5 linked regions of the Homo sapiens genome follow. The protein of the gene in region 2 purifies or fractionates together with the protein of the main gene of each other region. This does not show direct contact. Each region holds a gene or a part of one and is shown on either strand. Other genes may lie near its edges.

Region 1 (4,839 bases), on a different chromosome or scaffold from region 2:
AATGACCTCCTTTGGCTGCACACCATCTTTGCTGTCATTTACCTCTTCCTCACTGTGGGTTTCATGCGGCACCACACTCAGTCCATTAAGTACAAAGAGGAGAACCTGGTGAGTGAGGCGGGACTTAGGGACATGTGCTGGGAGGGACTCAGGTGGGAGTCGGAGTGGAAGGGCCTCCCAGGCTCTGCCACAGGCCCTGACTGCAATGAGCTCTGGGAGGGCCTCAGGAGCCCCGCTTGCTTATTCTTGCTCACACTTGGCACCATCTTTAAAAAAAACAGTTTCCTGGTGGATTGTTTCAAGATTTGGACAGTTACTGGTGCTAAGTAAAGAAATTTGGGTTGAGAGCAGCCCTTTCTCTTTGCCGCCCACAGCTTCACAGGGGAGGGGAGCTTCTGTGGCTTGGTTCCAGGCCTGGGTCCTCCTCTGATCTGCTGTGTGACCGCATTTGAGTCACTTCCCCTCTTTCTCAGTCTCCTGCCATGCAAAGAAGGCTCATAGAGTTGCTTTGGAAGTGGATTCTTTGTACAGCCTGGAAGAAGACGCTGTGTAAATGACATGCTTTGGGGGCTCCCCCGGCCACAGAAGGAGAAAACTGGAGCCTTCTGATTTCCTGTTGTTTACTTTCCAGAGGCTGGAGTTGGGTAGGAAACCTGAGCATACCGGCACACTGGCTTGTGGGTGACTTCTCTCCCTGCTGTATTTCCCGGACAGGTGAGGCGGACCCTGTTCATCACAGGACTCCCCAGAGATGCCAGGAAGGAGACTGTGGAGAGCCACTTCCGGTAAGCAGGTGGGGTGGGAGGGGAGCTGAGCCCCCTCCACGTAGGACCAACACAGCCCCACCCGCAGGGCGAGCACCTTAGGTGAGCGCCTTCTGTCTCTCGCTTGGGTATCCAGGTGAGATCTGAGAAGGACCTGGCCCTGCCACACGTGTATGGAGTGGCTCCTGTGTGCCAGCCCTGCTGGTGCTGTGCAGTGAATAGCGCCCTGGTGGCCTATCCTCTTCAAGCAGCCTGTGCACAGTGTCCAGAGCACAGACCAGGGTGTAGGTGCGAATAAACGTCTTGAGAGCATACGGGGGAAAAAATTGTTGACCCCGGGGTTCTTAGCATCACCTTTGCAGAATAAGAGAGACGTGAGCTGAGCATTTGTATGGACCCACAGGGCTAGGGTCTCACAGGTGGAAGGACCTCGGGGCCATCTCTGCGTTTGTTCGTTTGTCCACCCACTGAGCGGGTGTCTGTTGAGTGAGCACTGTGTCTGAGTCCAGGCTCTCCCTGGTAGAACCTCCTTTCCAGCGGCTCCCTTTGAGTATCTGCACCACCAATTCCTGCAGATGGAGGCTGGAGGAAAGTCTTTCCTGTGAGGAGATTACGTGTGCAGCCAGGGATGCGGGGAAAGGCCCAGAGCATCAGGAAAGGTGGCGGTGGGGTGCAGGGGGGCAGGGCAAGCAGTCCGGGAAGGCTCCCAGGACCCCATGCTGGAGGACCTGAAGGCTGGGCTGAGGAGCTGACATTTTATTCTTTCTTCATTCCTTTTTTTGTAATCTTATTTTTTTAGAGACAGGGTCTTGCTCTGTTGCCCAGGCTAGAGTTCAGTAGTGCAATAATAGCTTACTGCGGCCTCAACTCCTGGACTTAAGGCATCTTCCTGCCTCAGCCTCCCAAGTAGCTGGGACTGCAGACACATGGCACCACACCCAGCTAATTTTTAAATTTTTTATGGAGATAGAGTCTTGCTATGTTGCCCAGGCTGGTCTCGAATTGCTGGGCTCAAGTGATCCTCCTGCCTTGCCCTCCCAAAGTGCTGGGATTACAGGCGTGAGCCACCATGCCCGGCCTCTCTTCATTCCTTATCAATACAGCAGCCACTAATTTGTTGCATGGACTAGGAGTTGGCTGCACTTTAACTTTGCACTATTTGTGAAGAAAGCACTTGCTAAGCAAATTGCTAGACAGGATCGTAAACTGAATGTTTAAAATTTGAAAAACTTCTTCAGAAACTCTAAGTATTTTAGAAATATTTACTAATATGTAAATACTCAATACCAGAATCATTTTTCTGTATTTCCTTGAAGCAACTCCTCAAAGTTGCCTGCTAGGCAACACCTGGAAACAGTAATTCCACTTAATGTATAACTTTAAAGAGAAAAAAAAAGTCTCCTCATTCTCATACAAACATTGCATGACTCATGCTTTCCCCTATTTTAAGAGGCCTTTTTAGTGAATGCTGTTGCAGTCCGTGGGGATTGATGTATGAATTTGCCTTTCAAGCAGGGATGCTTAAATTGCAGTTTTCTTCCTCACAGCTCTTATTGAGACCAGAAATTGTCCTACTGTTTAATTTCATGATTGATATACCTATGGGCTGTCTCTCTCACTAAAATGTAAGCACATCCAGGCCCTGTTACCAGCACCTAGAACAGTGCCTGGCAGGTGGTAGGTGGGGATTTACATGGTTCTGGAATCCCCTGGAATTGTATGTATAATTTTGCGTGTATGGTGAGGGGGTATTGCATGGTGGCCATGAGCATTGACCTTGGAGCCAGGTTGCCTGTATTCACCTCCTGGCTCAGACACTCACTAGCTGTGTGATCTTGGGCACAAGCCACTTACCTCTGTCGGCCTCAGTTTACTCATCTGTAAAATGGGGACAAAACCTCACAGGTTATGATGAGGATTAAATAAATAAATATATGTAACAATACCTGGTCAATAGTGAGTATGTATTTTGCTGGGTTTTTTTTTTTTTTTTTTTTTTTTTTGAGACGGAGTCTCACTCTGTTGCCCAGGCTGGAGTGCAGTGGGGCAATCTTGCTCACTGCAACCTCTGCCTCCCAGGTTCAAGTGATTCTCGTGCCCCAGCCTCCCAAGTAGCTGGATTACAGGTGTGTGCCACCACACCTGGCTAATTTTTGTATTTTTAGTAGAGACAGCGTTTCACCACATTGGCCAGGCTGGTCGCAAACTCCTGACCTCAAGTGATCCACCCGGCTCAGCCTCCCGAAGTGCTGGGATTACAGGCATGAGCCACCGCACCTGGCCTTGCTGGTTGTTAATATGTGTGTAGATATTTTCTGGTCTGAGGGTCCTTTGCTTTCATTAGACCCTCTGAAAGGTCTGTGACCTTAAAAAAGGCTACCTGAATAGGATTTCAGTGATGGCTCAAGGTAGATACTGACCTAGCACAAACAATAAATCTGTTCCTTTGGGTCTTTAGAGGGGATAGTGATGTGTTCATTTTTCCCCAGGAGAAGTGCCAGCTGATTCCAAGCCAAGTGGGTATAAACTTGTCAGTTCCAGGCAGTTAGCTTCATACTACTAAAAAAGGCTAGCGGGGTGCAGTGACTCACGCCTACAATCCCAGCACTTTGGGAGGGTGAGACAGGAGGAGTGCTTGAGGCCAGAAGTTCGAAATCAGCCTGGGCAACATAGCGAGACCCCGTCTCTACAAAAAATAAAAATCAGCCTGGTGGCATGTGCCTGTAGCCCCAGCTACTCAGGAGGCTGAGGTGGGAGGATTGATTGAGCCCAGAAGGTTGAGGCTACAGTGAGCCATGATTGTGCCACTGTACAGCAGCCTGGGTGACAGAGTGAGACCCTGTCTCTAAACAAAACAAAACAAAACAAAAGCCCTCTTTGTATTAAATTTCAAAATTTCCCCCTTTTGGAGGATAAAAGACAAAGAGAAGAGAGGTCTCCGCTGGCACAGAAACCAGCAGCGAGATCACTCTGCCATCCTTTCCCTTGGATCCGTGGGCACGTCTCCTGCTTGGGGTGTTTTCTTTTCCAACGGTGTCTTTTGCCTCCTTCTCTCCCTGGCCACAGGGACGCGTATCCCACGTGTGAGGTGGTTGATGTGCAGCTGTGCTACAACGTGGCCAAACTGATCTACCTGTGCAAGGAGAAGTGAGTGGTGGGCGGGCCTTGCAAGATGCCCCCTCCTTCCTTGCTGGCCTCGCATCTCCCAGCTAGGAAGGGAGGCGGGAGGCCCTGGACCCCTCCTTCTCCCCTGGCGTTCGATGGTTGAACTGTGGGTATGGGGGTCCCTGCCACAGGATTCTAAATCTGAGGTTTGTGCCCCCGCTCCCACCCCTACAGAAAGAAGACTGAGAAGAGCCTGACCTATTACACAAACCTGCAGGTGAAGACAGGCCAGCGGACCCTCATCAACCCCAAGCCCTGTGGCCAGTTTTGCTGCTGTGAAGTGCTGGGCTGTGAGTGGGTAAGGGTCCCACCCCCCGGCTGGGAGCAGAGGCATTGGCATCGGGGTGCCCCAGATACCAGCATGGGGCCACGTCATCCCAATGGGATGTGTCTTGTGGCAGGAAGACGCCATCTCTTACTACACACGGATGAAGGACAGGCTGCTGGAGAGGATCACAGAGGAAGAACGCCACGTCCAGGACCAGCCCCTGGGAATGGCCTTCGTCACCTTCCAGGAGAAGTCCATGGCCACCTAGTGAGTGTAGGCACATCCAGACCCCTTCTTGGCTGACTCCCTGTTCCCCTCCAGATAACTCACTGTCCCTCTCGAGTGGAGATGGTACTGCTGACCCACCATCCCTGGGATTTATCTGTGGTGTTTCCTTCTCCTCCCTCAGCTACCCACACTCACTTTCAGCCAGCCCAGCCCATGTTTGTGTAACAGGCGGTGGGGGTGTGGGCAGCAGCCACGGAGTGGGTGATTCTGGCTGACCCCCTCGAGCTGATGTGGCCTGGCCCCACTGCTGGGCTCTTCCCTGCTGCCCTGGACCCATCCTGTTGGCTTCATGTGCCAGCCTTGCCCCAGGGGAGATGGAGGCACCCTCCTTTCAGACATCTGCTCTGGGCCACA
Region 2 (4,839 bases):
CCAGGAGCTTCGCACACATCCTCTCCTTCAATCCTCCTGACCACCCTCTGGCATAGGAATTGGAATTCCTATGGGGGCCTGAGCATCTAGATGGGGACCTGAACTTCTGGAATGAGACATGGTTTTCCCAAGCTGCACAGCTAGAAGTATCAGAGCTGGGACTGGAACTCTGACTCTTAGAACCTACAAGGGCTTTTTCTGCTATGCTTCACTGGCTATAAAACCTCTTCCTTTTTTAAATTAAAAAACCTCTCGGCTCACGCCTGTAACCCCAGCACTTTGGGAGGCCGATGTGGGCAGATCACTTGAGGTCAGGAGTTCGAGACCAGCCTGGCCAACATGGTGAAACCCCCTCTCTACTAAAAATACAAAAATTAGCTGGGTGTGGCAGTGCACGCCTGTAATCCCAGCTACTCGGGAGGCTGAGGCAGGAGAACTGCTTGAACCTGGGAAGCAGAGGTTGCAGTGAGCCGAGATCACATCAGTGCACTCCAGCCTGGGTGACAGAATGGGAAAAAAAAAAACAACTTTTTTTTTTTAATAGAGATGAAGTCTCACTATATTGCCCAGGCTGATCTTGAACTCCTGGGCTCAAGTGATCCTCCACCTCGGCCTCCCAATGTGCTGGGATTACAGGCATGAGCCATCACACCTGGCCCAAAACCTCTTCTTAACTGATGTGAAAGGAATTAGTTTAGGCTGTGATCACTCTGCAGACTGGAGTGTGCCTCTACTGGAAGAACATGGCCACCTTCAACTGTGGGCCGGGCCAAGCTTAGCACAGTTGCTGTGCCAGGTAGCAACTCCTGGGCTTGGACAATTGTGTGCAGGTGCACGAGGGCCTGAGGCAACGTCAAGAGAGGATATGCTTTTCTCCAGGTTGATGAATAAATGACAAAACTAAGAGCAGAGGTCCTGAGAGTTTGAGTTAGCGGGAGAGAAGTGGCAAGGGCTGGCAGGCTGGCTGGCCTTCCATTGGAAGGAGGGATACTCCCTGGGTTTTCCTGTACGTGATCTTTTTTCTCCCTGTTTTGGTCTTAGCCTACACTCAACAGCTTCATGGGCCTGGGTCAGGCTGCCTGGAAGGAGGCGAGAGTGTTCTTGCAGAACTTGCTGTCTGTGAGCCAAGCCAGGCTCAGAGATGACACCGAACTTCGGAAGTGGTGAGAAGCACGTGGTCATAGGGGGGATGAGGGGATGCAGCAGGGGAGGTGAAGGCTGTGTGGTTATCAGTGCCATTCTGAGTCACGGCTTGGCAGCCTTAGTGTGGCCAAGTCAGACCTGCCCTCATCCAGCCCCTGCCTGAGCTGCCTATTGATGGGAGGGCTTTGGGAGGACTGGGATTGCCTTGGCGCCTGGAATGGAGCTGCCCAAGCTAGGCCAGGCCAGGCCCATTGGCCCTCTCTCTTACTCAGGCTGTCCTCATTAGCATCATCTGTGACCTCATCTGGTTTCTAGAGTAGGAAAGAGTTTCCACTTGTCTAGTCCCATTTCCTAGGGTAGAATATAGAAACGGCTTCAGTGGGTGGATGTCCTCTCAGCTGTGAAAGGTTCAGCATAGCTCTGGCCCCAGGCCAGCCAGAAGGTGCCCACTGGAGATTGTGGATAATCTTGGGGATGGTCTGGGCTGAGCCCGTGGGTGGGACCGCGCTTTGCTGCCTACTTGACTTTGAAGCCCCTGGTTCTGTGTTTCAGTGCATTCATCTCCCAGGCTTCTGCCACGATGCACCTTCCAGCCACCATAGGTGAGTGCAGTCTCTTCACCAAGATAAGAACGGAGCAGCTTCGTGGGCCAAGAGGGCTGGCCAGGTGCTTTGGTTCTGCATCTGTGTGGAGGGTCCCTGCTGGTGGGGGGAGATGGAGGAGGGGCTCTGGGGCTGTTACCCGCTCCTCATCACTGACCTTTCCCAGCATCCAGGCCCGGCATTCACTCAGGCTATTATCTTGCCTCAGGTAGTGAGTTGCAGACTGCTCAAGTTCATGACTAGCCGCATGGCTCCCTGCACAGCAAATTGCTTTCCTTCCCCCAAAGGCTATGGGACAAATTCTCTGAGCTCAGTCTGTGAGTCAGCAGTTTTGAGGATAGAGGCCAGAGGGCTATGAAGGGCCCCAGTTTGAGCACGTGGCAGGATGTCTGGTTGGAGTGTCATTCAGGAAGTTGGAGCTGTTGAAACTCTCAACCTGAAGCAGAGAGAGAGGCTGGCTCAGCCTGCGGCCCAAAGCACAGCCCTCTTCCTTGTGCACAGGTCTCCTCTGCTGGGCTACCTGGGCACCTGTGAGCTGAGGGGCCAGTTGACCCTGCCCCTGGGGTACACTGCCTCTCTGGAACAGCTCCTGCTGTCCGGGGAGAGTCCTTTGCTGCTGGGCTGCTTGGGCTAAGCTGACTGGAGGATGGGGTTGGGGACAGGGGCCGAGTCACCTGCCTCCTCCCAGCCCCTCTCACTCCCCACTCTCATACACTCATGGGACTGTGCTATGTTTTGGCAAACCAGCTGTTGTGCAAACCATATGTCTTTCAGGGATATCATGTCTGGTTGACTGATGGTGCCCTTTCTTGTTTTTTTTTTTTTTTGTTATGGATTTATTCTTTTGAAAAATCTCTCAGCTATTACTTCTGTGCAATGGGACTGAAGATGGGAAGCAGCAGCTAAGGCTCCACCTGCCCTGTGGACTGTTCTTCCTCTCCTCACCCTTCACCATGACTGTTGCTAGTCTAGGCTGTTGGTATTGATGAATATCCAGCATTTTTTTTTTTTGAGGAGACATTTAGGAAGATAAAACAGGCAGACTGTCCCAACTGGTTTTTCTTTCAGATTTTTAATTCTCCGAATGGTAGATATGCCTACAGCTTGCTGGCTAGCCCATTCAGTTCATCATAATCAACAAGCACTGATATGCATCTGCAGTGTGCAAGCCCTTGTCCTTGGCACTCGGGCAGAGTCCAAGAAAATGAGGACTGGGCTGGGGCTGTCCTGGAATGTCCACAGTCTAGCAAAGATGTGCACACACATAACTGGAGCACCAGTGGGAAGCGAAGCCTGCCCCAGAAGGATTCAGGGGAGGGGATTTGGAGGGGGAAGAGATCCTGCTAGAGAGAGCAGGGAGGGCTTCAGGGAGGAGCGGGCCTCAAAGAGTTGCCAGGATTTGAATACACAGGGACAAGGGAGAAGTCAATCAGTATAGGCGTGGTGAGGGAGCCTGTGGGAACTCGGGAATGGCAGTTGTGTGTGGGAAAAGTGGGGAGCCTGAGAAGGGAGGTGGTATCAGCCACTTGGTGTTCACATTCCACTGTCAGTTTCAGAAAGTCTGGACTCCTGATTTCTTATTTGTTTCTCAGCTGAGGGCTCTAAAAACAAATCTTCAGTGAGGATATTTTATATTGCATTTGGTGCTGCCATTGCTGGCTGCAGGCTGAGCTCTGGATGTGTAAACAGTATTGTGTGCACACTCGTGGCTCCAGTGCTTGGAACAGTCCATTCTTCCTGAGGCATGTGGGTTGCTGATGGGATCTGTTGGGTCTTTCCTCTGCAGGAGACTACACAGACTTCTATTCCTCTCGGCAGCATGCTACCAACGTCGGAATCATGTTCAGGGACAAGGAGAATGCGTTGATGCCAAATTGGTATGAACTGGGCCAAATGTCTGCATAAGTTCAAAGTCTTTCTTTTCATTTCCAGCAGCATATTTGTCTCAGGAGCTGCCAAGTTCTTCTTAAAGTAAACTGGGGAGGAAAAGCAGTTATGATGTTGCAACCTCTGGAAGCAGTGGTCTCAGCTTCTGGTCTCCTGCTCAGCTTGGCTTAGGACTTGCTGTGGGATCGAAGGGCAAGTCCCTTAAACTTCCTTGGACAGCAGGGGTTGGAATTAGATTCCCTTAATCCCTATGCTCCTTCTGGAGTCTTTCATTTATAAGCTGTGTATTATTGTACTATGGGCAAGTCTTAGACTCTAGCATGCTCCATACTTACATTTTCTGATGAATGAGAATCCTCAAATGTGCCCAGTGCTGTATATTCCTCAACATGTGATCGGTTTCATTCATTTGTTTGATCCTCGTAGTAGTTCTCTGATGTCACAAGGCCATGATTGTAAGCCCCATTTTACAGACAGGAAAATGGGCTCAGAGAAGGATCAACTTGCCTGAGCACAACAGGGCCACAGCCTGTCTCCCAGCCCCCAGATCAGGCCATTGACCAAGCTGAGGATGCAGAGCTGGGATCCTTGCCCTTTGTTCTGTGTTGTCCCCTGGATGTGATGGTTCCTTGGAACTGAAGAGGGCCTGGACTCAGTGGCAGGCATACACTCCAGGCCCCAGTGCCATCAGTCACACACAGGAGCTGGGTTAGGGACGGGGCTTTACTCTCTCTCGAGTGAGTGTCTCCAGTAGGCTATGCCATGAGGGGAGGGTCTGTTAGAACCAAGATGAGGAAGAAAGAAAGGGAGAGAGAGCAGTTCCAAGCCAGAGATGTTGAACAACAAGGCCAAGGTTGCAGAATGAGGCAGGGGTGAATCTGAGACCAGAACCCAGGCTCCAGGTTCCAGGCTTCCACGTGAGATGCGCAAATATTTGAGAATCTTGCACTGTACAGGCTCCAGGCTGTATTTGTCCCCAGCCAGCTTCAACTTGTCTATCTGATGGGCTGAGTGTCTATATGAGTGTCCTTGGCAGTGATGACCCAGTGGACTGCCCAGCCCCAGAAGAGCTGGCTGTCACCTGTGTGCCAGGATCCCAGTGGCCAAAGGGCAGGGGCACCAGGAAGTGAGAGGAGAGCCGGGACCTGGGAAATGAGTGTTGACTGTGTCTGAAACCGAGTGTGGGGGCCGCAGCCATCCTTGCCCC
Region 3 (4,839 bases), on a different chromosome or scaffold from region 2:
AAATAATAACCCTCACTCAATTTTTAAAACATTGGTATATTGATAATGTTTGATGGGAAAACTTTCAAACTTGTAGAGATAACAACTAACTATACACAACTCTTCCCATACCCCTTCCACAATTATATATACTCCCTACAATAACCACATGAAAACAACTCTTTCATGAACCAAATATCACGTTATATGCATTATGTCTAACTGGCTCAATTAGAAATAAATTAATTTGTTCATCCTTTTTCTGTATAGTAGCTGAATAACTAATTGGTATGTACACTACCCCTAGCATTACTTAAATAAATTGCTTTTGTAAGCATATATGTAGAAATTCCCATTAGTAATTGATATACAATTCATATGATATACAATACATGAACACATTTGAATGCCCAGCACCTTCTTTCAGATAGAAAAACTTCCGCAGTAGTTTCAACAGTCCTGTGGGCTGAATCATTAGATTTGCCAAGAAAATCTATTACTTGCTCACTTTTTATTTCAGCAACTTAACATTAACTACAGCACAGGCTGAATAATAATGATGAAAATGTTTCCATGGTCTATTCATGTCAACAGCACAATAACAACCATGTTCTGTAAAGGACAAGAATATTTCACAATCAGCTGCCTGAGCATTGCCAAGTACAGGGTTAAATAGTAAAAAATAAATTAAAATATTAAAATTGTGAATATATATTTTCAAAAGAAAAAGCTCCACCTATTTCAAGTATGCTTTTATAATTTGATTTTGTCATGATCCTTTATGCTCCGCTATTGGTTAAATCTCAACTCTTTTTCTTATTCTTGCCATTAGCCTTCATTGATCTTGCTCTGTTTCCATAAAAAGGCCACAGTAGATAGTTAAAATGGGAGGGCAGATGGAAAGGTATACAACAAGGAATGAAATGGGCTTGTACAGTTTGTCTTCTTTGAACCCTAAATACCTTTAACTGAATTCATTCTTGACTATTGAAATCCCTGAGATGAACAAAAGCAATCTCAATCGACACTGAAGCCCTTTTTTTCATGCTGAACATTTTTGGAAGTGGGCAATGTATTTAGAGAACACAAAGGATATGGTGACAAAGTAATGTGAAAAAGCTAAAAAGGCACTACTCAATGCATCTATGAGATAAACATCAATGCACAGAACAATGAATGGCTGAGATATGTGTGCTGTGGCCTTAACATTGTTTAAATGTATTTACTGAAAATATACTAAAAATGGTCCGGCTGCGGTGGCTCACACCTGTAATCCCAGCACTTTGGGAGGCTGAGGTGGGTGGATAACCTGAGGTCAGGAAGTTCAAGACCAGCCTGGCCAACATGGTGAAACTTTGTCTCTACTAAAAACACAAAATTAGCCGAGTGTGGTGGTGGGCGCCTGTAACCCCAGCTACTTGGGAGGCTGAGGCACGAGAATCACTTGAACCCAGGAGGTGGAGGTTGCAGTGAGCTGAGATGGCATCACTGCATTCCAGCCTGTGTGACAGAGTGAGACTCCATCTCAAAAAAAAAAAAAAAAGAAAAAAGAAAAAGGAAGAAAATATGCTAAAAATGGCAAGGTACCTTGCTGCTGCTTTTTTAAGATATACTTTAAATGAGTGCCCAGATGGATTTTACCTTTAAGATATTTGCTTGTGACTTCTAGATTTCTGTTGGATTTAAACTAAAGGCTACTAGAATAGCTTATCATTTGCAAGTAGTCCAAATTTAGATTTTATAAATCACTTTCAATTTATTAAGTAAACCAGACTTTTCAACTTTACATTCAAAACATGTATCTATTCTCTTACAATTTCTGATAGATAAGAGGTTTAATTATAAAAGTACATTAATGTTCCATTCATTTTTAGCTATCAGTCTCCTATACGCATTAGATTTTACTTACTTAGAGACACATACATTCTCAAAAGATGTAATATTCTATATCCCAAGGTTTTACTATATTAAAAAAATATGACATCTAATTAAAAATATTGAGAACTGTACTACTGTGAATATCCTTTTCCATGGTAACACACACACACACACACGTACTTCATGCTTTTTATTCATTTCTCAGACTGTTTTCCCTAAGAAACAAAACATATATATTCCCCATGCCATTTCTTCTTTCCTCAAATTGCCTGCCCAAGAAATAAGAAATCAAAGTACAAGTGAGAATGCAGAGCTTCTGCCCAGTTTCTAAAGAAACAATCTACTATCATAAGTTACCAGAAAACTGGCCTATTGGTCAATTCTGTTATACATTAAAAATTTTTTAATTACTTTATTAATAATTTCATGTGTTTCTTGAAGAACATATGTGATATTGTGACTAAATTTAACTACAGAAAATATCGGTCAATTAAATTCATTTTAAATGCAAAATATTGACACAATTTCACTGTTAAACCTCTTGAAATTAATCATCTCTGTTTTGAAAACAATACTCTATTAATAATGTTATTTCTGCACTAAGAAATTTAACAGTAATATATAAAGCATTTCCATATTTCTATTTGAATAACAAGGGGAATATCAAAGAACTGGAAGTCACATTTCAGCTATATCAATCTAATATTTATTCTAAAGGGCAAAATGCTTCCACAAAATTATTATGTAATGCAAAAGGTGTGAAAAACATTTCAAATGAAAATAAAGTATGAGTTTGAAAATTAAAAAATATTTAGAGACAACTTTCACATTAATAGCAAAATAATATATTCATGTTAATAATATATTATTTTCATGAAAGAAAAATGGTTTGCTGTGTAGAAACACAAGTGTAATCTTTGGTACCAAAGATTTTTTTTTCCCGGCCTATTTTACCATCTCTGATGACATGGAACATCTTTCCTTTAGAATGGCCTAATATTACATAGTGGTTCACTTTAGCTGGTACCTTCTACACCACTGGAAAATAACATGGAGGTTTAGAGCCGTGCAAAATAAAACTTTTTTAAAAATGTCGGCCAGGCACGGTGGCTCACGCCTGTAATCCCAGCACTTTGGGAGGCCAAGGCGGGTGGATCACGAGGTCAGGAGATTGAGACCATCCTGGCTAACACGGTGAAAATCCGTCTCCACTAAAAATACAAAAAATTAGCCAGGCGTGGTGGCAGGCGCCTGCAGTCCCAGCTACTCCGGAGGCTGAGGCAGGAGAATGGAGTGAACTTGGGAGGCGGAGCTTGCAGTGAGCTGAGATCGCGCCACTGTACTCCAGCCTGGGCAACAGAGCGAGACAAAAAAAAAAAAAAAAGTCTTTGTGTGATAGCTTTTAAAAAGTATAAGAACTTTAAAAATAATTACTTAAAGTTTATTTCCTCACTCATATGCATCTCAGAAAGGATTTCTAAGCATCCCAATATCCAAACCAAAAGAGATTCCAGAAGACAAAAAAAAAACATAAATTAAAACATAAAATTCATGATCAGACTCAGAGTCCTGACTGAAGCATTTACTTGAGTTGTTTAATCTTACGGATTTCATTGCTCAAACTGCTTCCATCTTGGCTTCTGCTGACAAGGATGGTTTAATTTCCCAAGGTCTGAGTTGCGTTCCTGGGGTTCCTCTTCTAATATGCTTGGTGTTGCTGTGGGCAGCCTGACAGTGATGAACATATTTGCTTTGTTAACTAATGATGAGTGCACTGTTGGATCTTGTAAACACTACTGATTATACATTCAAACTGTATTCTTAGTGGAAGTGGCACTTACTAGGACCCTTAAAGTCAAAATATTTAATTTTTAGAGCACTTTGCAGGTATTTCATCAGCTGGTAGTCGATTTCTCATGAACGTCCTTTATTCACCTTTCAGTTCATTGGTGGATGCTGAAACCCAGCCGTGTTTTGGATCCTATTTTCAAATCTTCGGAAGCATCTTCAGAAAAGAAGTGCATATTGTTTGTTTCAAAATGTGCTTTATTGCTTTACACACTTTCCTGTTGTCAGTTTTAGAGCTCCTCTATTATGTAGCACATTTAATGTTTTGAATTCTAATGGCATTCTGTGAGGGCTTGCATTGGAAAAGTACCTATATTTTAAGTCATCATAATAATGATATTTGACCGCTTTTCCATTTAAATCCTTAGGGAAGGGCCAGAATCCATACAGGTGAATTTCATCACAGAATCTTGTGGCAAGTGTATACATGAGAAGACCTGTGCTGGGTCTTTTGATAGGAACTTTGTTGGTCAGCCAGTAACTGGAAAAACAAAAAACAAAATCAAGAAGAGAAGAATTTAGACACACATAGAGCATATCCTATAGCAAGTATATAATGCAGAAAACTTAAAAGGTATCTTTATGAATAATATTTTAAAGAATTACTGAAGAAATATTTTTAAGCATTTAGAAAATTTGATGCTTTTATTTTATTTCTTCTTTATCCTTTATTTTCTTTCTTATTCTTGAGGTCATATAAATACCCAAGGGACCTGGAATGTAGGTGAATATTACTCTAGAATCTCACCTTTGAAATGAATAATAGCAAACATTTATATAACATGCAGAGTAAAATTTTCTCAAAAAGGATTAAATACAACTGCAGAAGTCATGGTAATTGGGTAGAGATTAAGTAATCCTCCCAGAAAAAAAAGTTTGAAACTATGCCTATAGATTTTCAAAATGTAAGATATTGCAATTAAAAATCCAAAGAAATAAATGCTTTATCTATGTTATATCAACTGATTTATTCAGCTCCAATTTTCCAAGTCACAATTTACTAAAGCAAATTAGAAGCCTCACTTCCACTCACATAAGAACAACAATAAAAAAAAGTTGTAGAATAATTGATAGTTTTCCAGTTATGCAATTTAACATTTTGTTAGATAGATAAAATATATTTCAATGCTGATA
Region 4 (4,839 bases), on a different chromosome or scaffold from region 2:
GTTCTAAAACTAAGCTGTAGAAAATGGCAGCCCCTAACCACATAAGGTTATGAAGCACGTAAATGTAGCCAGGGCAACTTGAGGAACCTAATTTTTACTACTATTTAATTTCAGTGTAATTATTTAGCATCAGAAGTAAGATGTGTCGTACATGTAAAACATGCCAATTTTCAAAAATTTAGTGTAAAAAATATAAAATATCACTTTAATAATTTTATACCGATTACATGTTGAATATTTTGAATATACTGGGTTAAATAAAATATATTATTAAAATCAATCTTACGTATTTCTTCCTTTTTATAATGTGGTATCAAGAACATTTAAATTTATATGTAGCTCATATTACATTTCTATTGGTGAGTATGGTCTAAAACGTTCGATGATCTGTTCAAATAGCTATTGGTTATAAAACTGTGTAACAAAAAGTTACCATGAAGCTGGTCCAATGATTTCATATTTTACTAAATCACAACAGCACCCACAAATAATGCTTAGTGCACATGGAGATTTTTGGATTTTCTGAAATAACTCTGGCCTAAAGTTTGAGAAATACTGCCTAGAATTCCTATCACAATTGGTAATGACATGAAATTCTTAAGATAAAAAATATTAATTCCTAGAATAAGGTTTTCAGTGGTCTTATGATTAATCAGACAATTGTATTTATATTTAGGTAGAAATGAACTTATCTTTCATCCCTGCAGAAATACCACTATGTTTCTTCCTTCCAACTTCAACTATCCTAAAAATCAGTAACAAGAAGCTTTTTTGACATTTTCAAAGACATGCAATTTATAGCACAAAAATAACCACTGGTGATTGGGTCTTTTAACTAGATTACCAAACTTTTAAACTCTATTAAAATTACATTTAAATAATAACTCCTTTGAGTCTTCAGTCTTACATTATCATTTTGTTCTCCCTTTTTCAATTCTATCAATTAAAGTAAGTAAATTCTTATTAGTACATATAAAAACGTCCTTGAAGTTCTGGTTTTATTTCTCCTTAATACTAAGTTAATGAAAATATAAAGCAAGGCATTTGCATAGTATGCCTGATAAGAAAAAAATCAAGAACAGGCCAGGTGCAGTGCCTCATGCCTGTAATTCCAGCACTTTTGGGAGGCCGCGGTGAGTGGATCACCTCAGGTCAACAGTTCCAGACCAGCCTAGCCAACATGGCAAAACCTTGTCTTTAAAATTAGCTGGGCGTGGTGTCACATGCCTGTATTCTCAGCTAGGCAGGAGGCTGAGGCAGGAGAATCCTTTGAACTTGGGAGGCAAAGGCTGCTGTGGGCCAAGACTGCACCACTGCACTCCAGCCTAGGCAACAGAGTGAGACTCTGTCTGGAAAAAATAAAAAAAGAAGAAGAAAAAGAAACAAAAAAAAATCAAGAACAGATTATGAGAAAAATCAGATTGGGGCGTAGCTCCACACATCATTTCACTTAACCAAAAAAAAATCCCAATCCCTGATTTACGGCATGTGTTCCGAATAAAAGACTATGCAGATGTTAATTTAATATTTACAAAGAGTAGTTTGACCTCAAAACTATAGCAGTTTTATTACTGTGAATTTTTTGCACACACCTACAGGTTATATAACCTAAATATTTATTAAGTAGTCAATTCTATCTTCCTATTCTGGTTTACTGATTAAAAAAGCATAACATTGTTTCTTGATAATCCTTTTAAATGTGGAAAGAATGCCATAAAACCCTTTCCCAGAGATTATGAATTCTGGCTTAACTAAATTATTAGAAAGATTATACTTGTTGGAGTTATTAAGTTTCCTTTTGGGGTGAATGTAGGGAAGAAGTATGAAAGTTGAGCAATCTGCAGGGCAAGAGGAAGCAGAGTTACATAAGCCATGCTTGGGACACAGTTTAAATTCAGAGCTTTAGGGAATGCTTTACAGAAAGGGAATAAATTACTCACCTGGCAAAACTTGGTCCAACAGTGTAACTGCAATAAAGAATACATTCTGGGGACAAAGTACTCTAATTTAAAGTATGTTAAATACAAAATTAAGCTTAAAGAACACCTAGCTGGCACATCTCTCTATATATATTTTATGCCACAGAGTTATATTGACAAGTGAGATAAATTACTGCATACCTGGGAGGAGCTGTTGGATAAATAATTTTTATGTGTTGGAATGTTAAATCTTGATTTAAAACCTGCTTGATCCACATTCTTAATCCTTGTCCAGAATCACCTGATGAATCAAAAAATCTAGATTAAAATAAATATTTTAGTAATACAATGCATTTCAAAGCAGTCTAAAACTTTTATGTCACACAGAGGATGGAATAAAGGATTTAAAAAAGCTCCATACATCATAATAACCATATAGAAACTGACTTACTAATATGAATTAACTAACTAGGTCTCAATAACTAGCAATAATTTTGATTATTTTACTCCTGGCTTCACCATTGATTACTCTGAAGATCTTGTTTAAGCTTAAGTTTTAAGTTACCTAATTTGTTTAGTGGGTAGTACAGGAATAAATAAATAAATTGATTTTTCTAAAAAAAATTTTATTTCTGTATTTATATGTGACTTTTAATAGTCATTTCTTATCATATTCTTAATAGTAATAAATTCCTAAAGTGACTGTTAAACTTCTGTAGTTAGAAGAACCTAATTTTCTTGGTTAAAAAAAGTCCAAAATGTGTGTTCAGTGTAATTTTATTTTAACTTGAAAAAATCATAATTTAATTTTGACAACATGTTTACATGACCTAAAAGAAGAATTATCTACTCCAAAGCTGGTAAGTAATAAAAAGCCATATAAATATTAATGTATATGTATTTACAGAAAAAAATGGAAGGAAATATAAGTCCATCTTATGGAGTCCTGAGGAGGAAATTAAGGTCACAACTTTAATTTTTTAATCAATTAACTCATTAAGGTATCAGTTCAAAAACTGCCTATTGAATCCCTGTTAATGTGTCAAGCACTGTGTTCACTGCTAGAGAGGCAATGATGGTGGGGTGAGGGAGGAATAGAGTCCCTATTCTCATGGAGTGTGTAGCATATTGTGAAAAACAGAAATTAGTCAAAAAATCACACAAATAAATGTGAAAGGCAAATGTACCTGCTTCAAAAATGAGACACTTGGTGTTGCAAATATTTATTTTATTCACAACTGACTGGGTTTATGGAGTTCAACAATAAATGCACTAGCCTATAAACTCTGCAAGAGGAAGTTTATGATGTATTTTATCTGAGTTATTTGTTCACATAGTGCCTAGAACAGGACTGACAAAAACTGGGTATCCAAATATAGTTGCTGAATGGTTTGAACTAAAGTCTACAGGATGGTGAGAAGTGCAGGGCAGAAGAAAAAAGTATCCCAGGGCGAGGAAAGGGCAGGTGCCAGGATTCTGGATAAGAGGGAGCAGTATGACATGTAAGAACTGAAAAGCAGAGAATGAAAAGAGCAGTGTCTATAAAATGAGACCAGAGAAACTGTAGGAACGTGACAAATCTGTTCATGAAGAAGTCATGAATATTTCTGACAGAAAGGTTGGCATGATTCTAAAGGATCAATCTGGAAGCTGTGTCAAGACAGAATTGAAAGAGAGCAAAAGTAGATGTACAGAGATCAGTTAGGAAACTACTGTTCATGCTTAGACTACAGCGATGATGTAGATAGAAACAGATACTAGAGAAATTTAGGTGGTAAAATTAATAGAGATTGGCAACGGATTTGTTATAAAGGGTCAACAGTAAAAGGTCTCATGGATGACTAACAGGCTTTTGGCCGGAGTAACTGGGTGAACAATACTAGACACCTGCCTAGACAGGAAACATAAGCAACAGGCATACACAGGTTGAGTGTGAGGTGCCTCTTTGTAATGCATACAAGGTCTTATACCATGGGTTGATTGAGCAACTATGGACAGCTAGAGGGGAGGACAAAATCCAGCCTAGGGTCCTTAAGGAGGATAAGCTAAGAATGAGTTTTACATTATTAAAGACTCCTTTCTCAAAAAGAGAGAGAAGGGAAAACTATGGGGAAGAGACCTTACATGGCCCACAAAAGCTAAAATGCTTACCTGACTTTTTGCAGAAAGTTTGCCAACCCCTGCCCTACACTACCTGGATGCCAGTACCCTCTTGGATATCCCTTCCTATTCTTCTCACTCCAGACACACTAGCCTTACTGCTGTTCCTTGAACATGTCAAGGACCCTACCCTGGAGCCTCCGACTTGGCTTTAAAGCCAAGTCTAAGTCTAGCTGTGAAGTTTCATCTTCTGTCATCTTTGCAGTGAGGCATAACCTGACTACTTTATTTAAAATTGTAACACTGTTCCAACTTCTCATCCATGGAAGAATCCCCTTATCCTGCTTTCCTTGTTTCCATAAAACTTACTACCTTCTACTATAGTATTTATTTACTTCATTAGAACATAAGCTCCATGAGAGCAGTGATTTGTTTTTTTCATTGCTGTATGATCAGAGCACAGAACAGTGCCTTACACATGGAGGCTGTGATATATTTCTTGAATGAATGGATTCATGAATGAATGTCTATCAGGCAGTTAGATGAACTTGTCTAGAGCTCAAAAATAGAATCTATGAATCTCCACAGAAATTCAAAGGTTCTATTTTTACCTATACACCAGTGACACAAATGGGTATCTCTAGGAGACTTCTGTGATTAGCCTAGGGAGAAAAATGTAGAGTGAAAAGACCTTGGACCAAATTTAGAGAAACCCCATCATTAATGGCCAGGTAGAGGAGGATGAGTCTGCAAAAGAAACCAGAAGGAGCAAATCAAGACAGAAAAAGAACCAGGAGAGTTTTTTGAGAAGAAAGCTGAA
Region 5 (4,839 bases), on a different chromosome or scaffold from region 2:
TGCTCACTGTGCCCCAGCCCATTTCCGCTGTCTGAATGTGCCATGCTTCTTCCTGCCTCGGGACATATGCACCTGTTGGCCGATGTGGCAATAGTAATAATTCTTCTTTTTTTTTTTTTTGAGATGGAGTCTTGCTCTGTTGCCCAGGCTGGAGTCCAGTGGTGCAATCTCGGCTCACTGCAACTTCCGCCTCCCAGATTCAAAGGATTCTTCTGCCTCAGCCTCCCGAGTAGCTGGGATTATAGGCACCTGCCACCACACCTGGCTAATTGTTTTATTTTTAGTAGAGGGGGTTTTGCCATGTTGGCCAGATTGGTCTCAAACTCCTGACTTCAGGTGATCTGCCTGCCTCAGCCTCCCAAAGTGCTGGGATTACAGGCGTAAGCCACTGCACCTGGCCAATAGTGATAATTCAGTCCTTACAATGTTATGAAATACATAGGTACTATTGTTATTCATTTTATACGTGAATAAATTTAAGGCATAAAGAAGGTATCCTGGTTGGCTGTGGTGGCTCATGCCTGTAATCCCAGCACTTTAGGAGGCTGAGGCAGGCGGATCACCTGAGGTCAGGAATTCGAGACCAGCCTGGCCAAAATGGTGAAACCCTATCTCCACTAAAAATACAAAAATTAGCCAAGTGTGGTGGTGGGCATCTGTAATCCCAGCTACTTGGGAGGCTGAGGCAGGAGAATTGCTTGAACCTGGGAGGCGGAGGTTGCAGTGAGCCAAGATTGTGCCACCGCACCCCAGCCTGTGCGACAGAGTGAGACTCTGTCTCAAAAAAAAAAAAAAAATTAATGGTATCCCCCAAAGTCAGACAGCTAATAACTGGCTTAGCTGGGATTTGAACACAGGCAATTTGGTTCCAGATCTGCTTTACTTTTCTTGTTCAGTGCTGTATTCATAGTGCCTAAAATAATGTCTGCTACAGACCGGGCAGAGTGGCTCACACCTGTAATCCCAGTGCTTTGGGAGGCTGAGGTGGGTGGATCACAAGGTCAGGAGTTCAAGACCAGCCTGGCCAACATGGTGAAACCCTGTCTCTACTAAAAAACAAAAAATTATCCAGGCATGGTGGCAGGCACCTGTAGTCCCAGCTATTCGGGAGGCTGAGGCAGGAGAAGTGCTTGAACCCAGGAGGCGGAGGTTGCAGTGAGCTAAGACCATGCCACAGCACTCCAGCCTGGGCAACAGAGCGAGACTGTGTCTCAAAAAAAAAAAAAATAATAATAATAATAGTAATAATAATGTCTGCTACAAAGAACGTGCTCAACAACATTTTTTGTAAATGAATAACTATTACAGAAAAAATACGTGCAATGGGAACACACTGGGGTCACACTACCCAGCACTGAGGGAGGGGTGGTGGTAGTTGGAGGAGATTTTCTGGAGGAGCTCATTTTTTAAAGTGAGACATGACAGATGATTAGGAGTTAGTCAGATGAAAGGGGAGAGATGGGGAAGAGGGTCACACACTCAGGAAATGGCATATACAAAGGCTTAGACTTCCCCATGCTCTTTCCTCAAAACTTTGTTGCTTTGAATTATTCAGGAAGAAGCAGCTTTGGCAAAATTTTGTTAACTTTTAAATCTTTTTTAGGGAACCTTCTGAGAAGCACTGATTATGACCTCACAGATGCTGCTGGCAGTCCCTTCCTTGCAGAATCCTTGCTCCTGAATATCTTTAAGAAAATTTCTTAAAGGAAAAGACAAAAAATTTAACTCAAAAGTTACCTGTTTGCCATAGAAATTGGTGTCTCCCCTGAAGGAGGATCGAGAGCCGGTGAATGAGAACATTGGCAAAGGCACTGGAATGGGGACATTCACTCCCACCTAAAACAGAACAAATCCGTGTCATATCCTAAGGACAAAGGAACTCTCCATTTAGAAACACAAAGGCATCAGAGACCAGTTTTAAATACCCACCTTCTACCCTATCCTCTACCCCATGAACTTTCATTCCTGAGGAAGAAATGGGGCAATGTGGGAGGTCATGGGGGCAATCTTAAACCAATGACTCACCATTATTTACTGTTTCCTCTTAGGAAATAGTAAATGGATATAAGAATCTCTTAAAAATTCTGTTCACGAACCTGTCCAACATCCACCAAGTGGGCATATTTCCGAGCAGTGGCTCCATTGGTGGTGAAGATGGCAGTTCCATTTCCATATGGGTTGTTATTTACAATCTGGATGGCTTCATCCAATGTTTCTGTCTCCAGAACCACAAGAACTGGACCAAAAATCTCCTCTTTGTAACAGGTCATATTTGGCTGCCAGGAGTGATGCATCCAGAAAAGAAGTCAGCTTTTTGGATTCTGAGTATTTTATGCTTATTTGGTACTTTCACTTACTACACATCATTTACGTGGACAACTTTCATATTACTAATCTCTTTTCATTTCAAATCACCTATTTAAAAAAAAAGTCCTCTCTCAAGTGTATTCCGTCTTCCAAGTTACCAATCATATAAACAACTTGGAATTCCTATCAACAATAACCACACTTCCTTTAAGGGACTGTATCTTTAGTTCATGACCCATCATCAGCTGCCTTTTTAATACCTGAACGACTAGTTTCATCCAATTGTTATCAAAAAGTTACATGAAAATTTATTTTTTATAAATCCAATCTATAGTAAATATACCAGGATAATTTTTCTCTTTACAGAAACCCCATGCTGTTTTCTGTAACATAAATAATCCATTCTTATTCACTCCTTTGCCTCCCAAATATGTCTGTATGTTTATATTTTGATATCAGGTCGCAGACACTCAAAACATCCTTCACCATGCAATTAATGTTTGTTGCTGATAAACGGATTTTTCTGTATGGTTCTGTGGCAAGAGATTTCATAATTTCTACTGCACTTACATTCAACACTTGATGATTCACTATTATAGTAAGGATATATGAATTTCAAAAAATGCCTCATAACCTCAATTTTTAAGTCATGTTAGCTGAGAGACTTTCAAAGTTTTGATAAATAAAAATTGACAAGTCAATTATTTTTGTCACTTTCAATAAATATTGGGTGGTTGATATATTGATTGAGACACTGCAGTAGCCATAAGCTAGGCAGCAAGAGGGAGAGGGGAGAGAAAACATTAACAAACCAGTATAAGATAAGATAGCGTTTGGCAAACTATAGCCTGTGGGCCAAATGTGGCTTCCTGCCTGTTTTTGTACAGCCCCAAGTTAAAAATGGTTTTTGCATTTTTAAATGGTTGAAAAAAAATTAATCATATATAAAATGATATGAAATTCAAATATCAGTGTCCATAAATAACATTTTTTTTGGAACACAGCCACACAATGTTTATAGCTGATCTCACACTACAATGTCAGAGTTTAGTTGCAACAGACACTATATCCCTGCAAAGCTGGAAATATCTATCCCTTTATGGAAAGTCTGCAGACTGCTGGTATAGTGGAAAGAGTTTGGTTGGGAGTTAGAAGGAGAGGCTCATTCAGACTCCAGATAAAATAATTGATCAATCCTGGCAAGAGATAAGGTCTTAGTCATTAAGTATTTTCATTAATAAATTAGAGGGATGAGATTCTATAGCCTTTAAGGTGCCTTCAGCTCTCATATTTGTGAAGTGAAAGTTGTTCACCTTGACATTCGAGATGATGGTTGGTCCAACAAAGTTGCCATTTTCATAGCCTTTCACTTTAATTTTTCGTCCATCAAGAAGGATGGAAGCTCCCTCCTTTGTTCCACTATCAATCAGATTACAGACTCGCTCTTTGGCCTGGGGAGTGATCAGAGGGCCAAGATCAGCTCCAGGCTGATCTCCTGTAAAACAACACAGAAGAATTTAAGGTCCTCATTAACATAAATTATGACTGCTGCCAGGGCTCATGCCTGTAATCCCAAAGCTTTAGGAGGCCAAGGCAGGAGGACTGCTTGAGCCCAGGAGTTCCAGACCAGCCTGGGCAACAAAGTGAGACTTCATATTTACAAAAAATAAAAAAATTAGCCAGGTGGTGGCCCGCACCTGTGGTCCAAGCTGCTCAGGAGGCTGAGGCAGGAGGATCACTTGAGCCCAACAGTTTGAGGCTGCCATGAGCTAGGATGGTGCCACTGCACTCCAGCTTGGGTAACAGACAGCCTGTGCTTTAAAAAAAAAGACTGCTAACAAGATGACTCCAAATGACAAGTACAGTATAAAGAGAGGAAATGGCAAGAATAGACATGATTGTTCCCACTGGCCAAGGCCAGTGACAGAACCCAAGAGCTTAATGCCACAGATGCAAAATCTAAGGGGGCAAGTCAGGTGATTGATTACCTGCATTGACTCTCAGGTTTTTGGCATGCTCCACCAGCTCTGGCAGCCACTTCTTGGCTTCTCCCACAAGGACTGCTGTTGAAAGAGCCATGCAGCGCTGACCAGCAGCTCCAAATGCTGCCCCAACCAGCTGGTTCAGGGTATTTTCCTTATTGGCATCTGGCATGACTACCCCATGGTTCTTGGCTCCCTAAAAAAAAATGCAGAAAGCACATGAGTCTTCCTTGGCCAAATACAACTAAGCTAAGAAATTAAGCAGTGGACCAGGTGTGGTGGCTAATGCCTGTAATCCCAGCACTTTGGAAGGCTGAGGTGAGAAGGATAACTTGAGGTCAGGAGTTCAAGACCAGCCTAGGCAACATAGTGAAACACCATCTCTACAAAAAATACAAAAAATTAGCCAGGCATAATGGCACCAGTCTGTGGTCCCAGCTACTTGGGAAGCTGAGGTAGGGGGACCACTTGATCCTGGGAGGCGGAGGTTGCAGTGAGCCAAGATCACACCATTGTACTCCAGACTGGGTGACAGAGTGAGACCCCTGTC

What was found.
Region 1: the proteins of FAH (region 2) and TMEM63A purify together in Homo sapiens (co-immunoprecipitation; one large-scale study listed by IntAct). This does not show direct contact.
Region 3: the proteins of FAH (region 2) and ST8SIA4 purify together in Homo sapiens (co-immunoprecipitation; one large-scale study listed by IntAct). This does not show direct contact.
Region 4: the proteins of FAH (region 2) and LYPLAL1 fractionate together in Homo sapiens (co-fractionation; one large-scale study listed by BioGRID). This does not show direct contact.
Region 5: the proteins of FAH (region 2) and ALDH6A1 fractionate together in Homo sapiens (co-fractionation; one large-scale study listed by BioGRID). This does not show direct contact.

The regions. Positions count from the first base shown.
Region 1 is NC_000001.11:225,861,843-225,866,681, reverse strand, and holds part of TMEM63A (mechanosensitive cation channel TMEM63A), read left to right. Parts: coding exon 1-108; intron 109-714; coding exon 715-785; intron 786-3,830; coding exon 3,831-3,911; intron 3,912-4,103; coding exon 4,104-4,227; intron 4,228-4,330; coding exon 4,331-4,464; intron 4,465-4,839. UniProt on the Homo sapiens protein: Mechanosensitive cation channel with low conductance and high activation threshold. In contrast to TMEM63B, does not show phospholipid scramblase activity. Acts as a regulator of lysosomal morphology by mediating lysosomal mechanosensitivity.
Region 2 is NC_000015.10:80,158,715-80,163,553, forward strand, and holds part of FAH (fumarylacetoacetase), read left to right. Parts: intron 1-1,041; coding exon 1,042-1,163; intron 1,164-1,695; coding exon 1,696-1,745; intron 1,746-3,531; coding exon 3,532-3,622; intron 3,623-4,839.
Region 3 is NC_000005.10:100,807,944-100,812,782, forward strand, and holds part of ST8SIA4 (CMP-N-acetylneuraminate-poly-alpha-2,8-sialyltransferase isoform a precursor), read right to left. Parts: intron 4,187-4,839; coding exon 3,904-4,186; 3' UTR 1-3,903. UniProt on the Homo sapiens protein: Catalyzes the transfer of a sialic acid from a CMP-linked sialic acid donor onto a terminal alpha-2,3-, alpha-2,6-, or alpha-2,8-linked sialic acid of an N-linked glycan protein acceptor through alpha-2,8-linkages.
Region 4 is NC_000001.11:219,176,528-219,181,366, reverse strand, and holds part of LYPLAL1 (lysophospholipase-like protein 1), read right to left. Parts: intron 2,221-4,839; coding exon 2,121-2,220; intron 1,968-2,120; coding exon of another isoform or gene 1,941-1,967; intron 1-1,940.
Region 5 is NC_000014.9:74,063,085-74,067,923, forward strand, and holds part of ALDH6A1 (methylmalonate-semialdehyde/malonate-semialdehyde dehydrogenase [acylating], mitochondrial isoform 1 precursor), read right to left. Parts: intron 4,486-4,839; coding exon 4,296-4,485; intron 3,803-4,295; coding exon 3,621-3,802; intron 3,009-3,620; exon of another isoform or gene 2,277-3,008; coding exon 2,097-2,276; exon of another isoform or gene 1,837-2,096; coding exon 1,738-1,836; exon of another isoform or gene 1,705-1,737; coding exon of another isoform or gene 1,604-1,704; intron 1-1,603. UniProt on the Homo sapiens protein: Malonate and methylmalonate semialdehyde dehydrogenase involved in the catabolism of valine, thymine, and compounds catabolized by way of beta-alanine, including uracil and cytidine.